Linked DNA regions of Homo sapiens: region 2 is linked to region 1. Evidence: fine-mapped QTL for protein levels in blood plasma. A gene starts in region 1. The other region holds a variant in brackets. All regions are shown on one strand. Distances are from middle to middle. Region 1 holds the start of CRELD1 (CRELD disulfide isomerase 1). Region 2 overlaps CRELD1 (CRELD disulfide isomerase 1).

Region 1 (2,829 bases):
TGGGCATCCCAGTTAAGCCTTTTCCACACTTCTATGAAATAGGCAAACCAGGTATTAATATCCCCATTTTACAGGTGAAGAAACTGTGGCTCTGAGAGGTTAAGAACCGACAACCAGGTCTAACTCTGAGCCTTTGCTGACTCCTCTTCCATCTGACTTTGAAAAGCTGGAGGGCTCAGGGCTCGCCTTTCTGTATCCTTCCCATGCCTTTCTTTACATACTGACTATATAAATGGCTTTCTGTATTACATATATTGACTATATAATGGCTTTCTGTATCCTTCCCATGGCTTTCTTTACATACTGACTATATAATGACAACTCTCAAATTCCTGTTTCCAATTCCTACTCTTTTCTGAATTCCAGATTTGTATGGAGTCTACCTGGATGTCTAATGGACATTTCAGCCCAATACGTTCAAAGAACACCACATCCCACCCCTCCCCTAAACCTTCTCGGTTTCGCATCTCACCATCTTAGAAAACAGCTGCACTACTCACCCAGTTGCTCAGGCCCAAAATCTAGTAAGCATCTTTTATTCTACTGTTTCTCTATACCCATAATGAATCTATCACCAGGTCCTATTGTTCTCTCTGCAAAATATACCCAGACTGTGACCTCTTCATCATGTCCTCCACTAGATACCACACTAGCTTGTGTTGCCTTTGTACCTAGATGATGCACTTGCCTCCCAAACTGGTCTCCCTGCTTCCTCCGCCCTTGCCCCTTACAATCCGTTTGCTACATAGCAGTGTGAGTAATCTTTAAAGGTGTAGAGAAGACAGTATCACTTTTTCTGCTCATAGCCTTCCAAGAGCTTCCCATTACACTCCAAAAAAAATCTAAACTCTTTTCTGTAGCCCTCGAGGCTTAAGCCTTTGCCTTCACCTTCTAGCACTCTCCCCTTGGCTCACTCCACTCCAGCCACTTCTCAAATACACCAAGCTCAGTCCCATCCTCTGCCCAATTCCCTCCCTGTCACATAGCTCGCTTCTTCACTTCCTGTCTCTCTGTTCAAATGCCAAACCTTGAACACCTTGCCTCCCACCGTCCTGCAGTCTACCGTGCTTCACTGTTTGTTCTTCATCTGACATAATATTATTCACTTACTCATTCACTGCTTGTCTTCTCTACTAGAATGTGAGCTCCAGGAAGGGGGCATTTTGCTTGCCTTGTTTACTGCTATACTATAGATGTTCAGTGCTATTTGTTGAATGAATAAGTGCTCCCCAAGAGTTCCTAGCCCTACACCAGCAGAGCAGAGATTTGGCGGGGAGGGGAATATACACCCCTTCCCCCAGCAGCCCCTTACCTGTCTTTGTATTTGGACAAATTCTCTTCCTCCCAGGCAGTGTTTCCACCTCCAAAGTTGTCCCGGATGGTTCTCTCCAGGCCCTGGAAACAGAAAATTAGTAATAGCTAAGTACAGTGCCTGGCACATGCTAGCACTTCACTGTTCTACTGACTAGGAAACTGAGGCACAGAAAGGCAACCTGCCTAGGGCCATACAACTAGTAAGAGACCAAGATGAAACTTAAATCCACGCAGATTTGCATCCCAGAGTTCCCCACTCTAAATCGCTGTGTTCCCCTCTAACGAGGCTGCCGGTGCACCCACCTTGTTAAAGCTGTCAACCAGTCCCCGGCAGGTATGACACGGATGGGGCTGAGGCGGGGGAGAAGACTGGGGAGGTGGAGAGGGCTGGAGCCAGATAGGTCCTGGGAGGTTGAGGAAGAGGCTGAGGCCCCAGAGCATAGCTGGGACTAGGCCCTTCGGGGGCCATGGGGCCATCTTTACCCAGGCTGGGGACCTGCAGATAGAGGGCGTGGAGAGGCTTCACTGAAGGAGTCAGGCCCCACGCGAGAAAGAAAAAGGTCTGTTCTAAGGTGCCGTGGCGCTGGGATCTGCGTTATTACAAGCAAAAGAGGCCAAACTGGGTATTGCAGGGGCTGTGGGGATGGGTGGGGAAAGGCGCATAAGATGCAATTCCAGAAGAGAAATAAGTTATCCTCGCTAGCATGGGGTGGAGAGGAAAGTGGCCTCGCTCCTTGACAAGGGGGCAGAAGTCAGCCTCTTGTCTGAGGGTCTGATAAAGAATATTAGGGGCCGGATCCGCAGAATTAGGGAGAAGAGATCAGATTCCAAGTACTGAAGGAGAGGAGGCCAGAGGGGTTGTCTTGGGGGAGGTGTCCGGAACCCCGGGCTTGGAGGGAGGAGCCCGGATCCGGATATGAAGGGAAGGGATCAGATTCAGGGCCTCGCAGAAGGGCAAAGGCACGGCCCACGAGCCGGCAGAGAAGGATCCAGACCCTCGTAGGCCACGGAGAAGGAAGAAGCGACCGCCCCAGCCCGCGGGCGCCGTGGGCCGTCTCCTCACCGCGTCGCTGCCACAGCCTGCGTAAAACGCACAACCCCCACCCGCGCCGCAGTCCAGGGGGCGGAGCTTGCCGCCCAGCCAATGGCGACGGGCCATGTGCCATTACGTCACCCCACGCCAGCCAACCAGAGGCGGCACCGAGCTGCACCTGTCCGGGCTTTAAAGGGCCGCGGGGCTAGGGAATGACGTTTGCCAGCCCCGCCACTGAAACGGAGACGCGTGTGGGCCACATGGGTAGAAAAACAGCGTCTGCCTTTATTTAAGTCCCGTCCCCCGCCCCAGGTCCCGCGCCTGGTCCCACCCCGCGTCCCGGCGCGGGAGTCCCCGGGGGATGGAAGTAGCTATCCAGGGCTGGCTGAAGGGCCCGGGACACTTGCTCCGCTCTCTCTTGGAGCCGCCCGGAACGCGGGGCGCGAGGCTGCTGCAGGGCCCCCAGGAAGTCTGGCAGTTGG
Region 2 (2,900 bases), 11 kb before region 1:
CCCGCAACGGTGTGGGACCGGCGCCATCGCTGAGCGAGCTGGATCTGCGGCCGCCATCGCCCATCAACCTGAGCCGCAGCATCGACGCCGCGCTCTTCCGCGAGCACCTAGTGCGAGACAGTGTGTTCCAGCGCTGCGGCCTCCGCGGCCTGGCCTCCCCGCCGCCTGGAGGCGCTCTGCGGCCGCGCCGGGGCAGCCATCCCAAAGCCGAGCTCGACGACGCTGGCTCCTCGCTCCTCCGCGGCCGCTGCAGGTCGCTCAGCGACGTGCGCGTGCGCGGGCCGGTCCCACAGCACGTAGTGGAAGCACCCGACGGGGCAGCCGCTGCGGCTTCTGGCAGCTCCCTCGACAGCTTCTCCAGGGGTTCACTCAAGATCAGTTGGAACCCCTGGCGCCACGGGCTGTCATCAGTGGACAGTCTGCCCCTAGATGAGTTGCCCAGCACGGTACAGCTACTGCCTGCCCCGACCCCAGCCCCTGATTCTACCGCCGCTCGGCAGGGGGACGGCCAGGGAGAGGTCCAGCCGCGCGGCAAGCCTGGGGAATCCCGCAGCGCCTCCAGTGATACCATCGAGCTTTGAAGAGCGGTCCTGACGCAGGGCCAGGACCCTGCCCGATGCCCACATGGCATGGCCTACTGGGACAGTTGAGCCTTTAAAAAATGGGCATCCTGGCCAGGCGCGGTGGCTCACGCCAGGAATCCCAGCACTTTGGGAGGCCGAGGTGGGTGGAACACGAGGTCAGGAGTTCGAGATCAGCCTCCTGGTCTCGAACATAGCGAAACCCTCGTCTCTACTAAAAATACAAAAAAATTAGCCAGGTGGCACACGCCTGTAGTCCCAGCTACTCGGGAGGCTGAGGCGGGAGAATTGCTTGAACAGGGAGGCAGAGGTTGCAGTGAGCCGAGACCACGCCATTGCACTCCAGCCTGGGTGACAAGAGTGAGACTCCGTCTCAAAAAAAAAAAAAAAAAAAAAAAAAAAAAAGGCATCCCCAGGCCTCTCTACCTGACGGCAACCCCCGGGGGACAGCCAGGTTTGAACTCACCCCACCCCCATGCCGTTTTTTGCTTTTAATATTTCTATTTTTTTTTCAGCCGGCATTTTGCACAGAGGCCGTGTCTTATGCGGAATACAGGGTGGGTGTGCATGGATTCGGGCATGAAGAACAGGGAGCAGGTGCCCCAGACTCCCCAACGTGGAGTGATGAGCCTCGCTTGTCTAGATTGTCCTCTTTGTGCCAAAGAAATAAACCCTTAGGACTTGGCTCATGCTTCCCTCTGGCCATGCCAGGATCCTGTACTCATAGGAGGAAGGAGAGACTGGAGGCCCTGCCTCCCAGTCATTCTAAGTCCTGTGTATTGGACGGAGAGCAGGACTCCGAGGAAAGGTTGCTTGAGGCTTGGAGGCTCTGGTCATAATGGCGACCACACTTTTATTGAATATCTGTTGTGTACTGTCCAGGTCTTCACATTTGTCACCTCATTTAATTCTCATGTTAAGCCTGAGTGGAAAGCATTATGAAGCCCATTTGAGGAAAGAGAAGAGTGAAGTTCAGAGGCAAAAGTCATCTGTCCAGGGTCCTTTGCCAAATGACAGCTGGCATGGAACCCTCCTAAGGCTGATTCCTCTATCCTCCTTCTCCTAACAGCACTTCAGGGGCAACCTTCTCCTCTATCTTTTCTCCACTCACCATCAAAGAAGCCCTCAATTTCCCAGGATTCTAGGACATTTCCCTAAGGTGGGGGTGGTGGGACAGGTAGTAAGACTGATGCCTTTTAACTTTCCAAGACC[T/C]TTCTTTATTTCCTGAGATGAATAAATAAGTGGCAATGGGGTGTGGGGATGTGGTGAACACAGAACAGGAACTGGCAGCATGCAGCTGGCAGGAGGGAGCTGTGATGGCCCCACCCCTGTGAGGACCACCTAATCCTAAGCAGGGGCCAAAGCTCTAGCAGCCACCATTAAGGAAAAACTTTTGAAATTCACACATTGTGAAGCCTGCCAGTCCCCGCCAGGTGAAGAGCTCATGGTATCCACCTTCAGGGCTACTTTTTACCCCAGGGGCCTTGTCTGCCCGGGCCTGGGTACCTGGGCTGCTCTGTAAGGCAGGTAGGGGTGCTTACCCCACTCTCAAAAATAAACCAAGCTGTCCTGAGTGTCCAGCAGGAGGGCAGCCCAAGCTCTGGGGGCAGCGTGGGTGGGAGGAGGTCCTACAGGTGGTGGCCGCGATTATCTGCCCTTGATGAAGCCCTCCAGCACACGGTCACTGCGCTCTGACAACCAGTAGCCAGTCATGGCCGCCACAGCCCCAATGAAGATGGCGGTGAACACCAAGTCGCCCTTAGCAGCCAGCGTGGCCAGTGCACAGATGATGATGCCAAAGAACATCTGCTGCAGCACCACCAACTCGTCTTCTGTCATCTCTGAGAAGAAGCCTGCTGACTCTGCAGAGGAGCAAGAGATGCAGCCTGGCACTCGTATCCCTGTTCCTGGTAGTTCTTGGAGTCTCCCCAGAACTCCCACACACCTGATCATCATGGCCACCAGGCCTGCCCAGCAAGCCAGGCACACTACATTTACTGCTCAAAACCACCCTGCAAGGGGCAGTTACCATCCCTGTCTCACTAAATGGGAAAGTGAGGCTCAGAGAGGTAAAGGGGTTGGACTTGCCAAGGCCATGTGGTGGACAAGTTGGGGGCAGAGCATTTATTACGTGTATGAGTCTCGTTCCACGGTCAGACTGTCTGGATTGGGATCCCAGCTTTGCGACTTGCTTGCCATATAGCCCTGGGAAAGTAGCTTCATCTCTCTGCATCTTCATTTTTACATATGTAGAGTGGGGATGAGAACCCAACTTCCAGCGTCGGGTTGTTTCAGGGGTTAAATCAGTTAAGATGGGGA

What was found. A credible set is the group of variants that fine-mapping cannot tell apart. PIP is the chance, under the fine-mapping model, that this variant and not a neighbour inherited with it causes the effect. The UK Biobank Pharma Proteomics Project read protein levels with antibody pairs (Olink). The fine-mapping took linkage between variants from a reference panel, not from the people measured, so its PIPs are less certain.
Region 2: its variant is the best candidate, but not a certain one, in a credible set for the plasma level of the CRELD1 protein (UK Biobank, PIP 0.61).

The regions. Positions count from the first base shown.
Region 1 is chr3:9,933,401-9,936,229 of GRCh38, reverse strand. CRELD1 (CRELD disulfide isomerase 1) reads right to left here and starts at 2,396. Exons shown (of 11, transcript NM_001077415.3): 1 at 2,310-2,396; 2 at 1,618-1,810; 3 at 1,313-1,395. The coding sequence starts at 1,791. IL17RC (interleukin 17 receptor C) reads right to left here. Exons shown (of 19, transcript NM_153460.4): 19 at 2,609-2,829. The coding sequence ends at 2,637. RefSeq lists an enhancer at 1,985-2,354 and a silencer at 2,455-2,784.
Region 2 is chr3:9,943,908-9,946,807 of GRCh38, reverse strand. CRELD1 (CRELD disulfide isomerase 1) reads right to left here. Exons shown (of 11, transcript NM_001077415.3): 11 at 1,402-2,443. The coding sequence ends at 2,229. PRRT3 (proline rich transmembrane protein 3) reads left to right here. Exons shown (of 4, transcript NM_207351.5): 4 at 1-1,266. The coding sequence ends at 581. Among named protein-coding and RNA genes, the nearest start is that of PRRT3-AS1, 2.0 kb to the left of the region's middle. RefSeq lists an enhancer at 474-1,136. The variant T/C (reference allele first, on the strand shown) is at 1,794.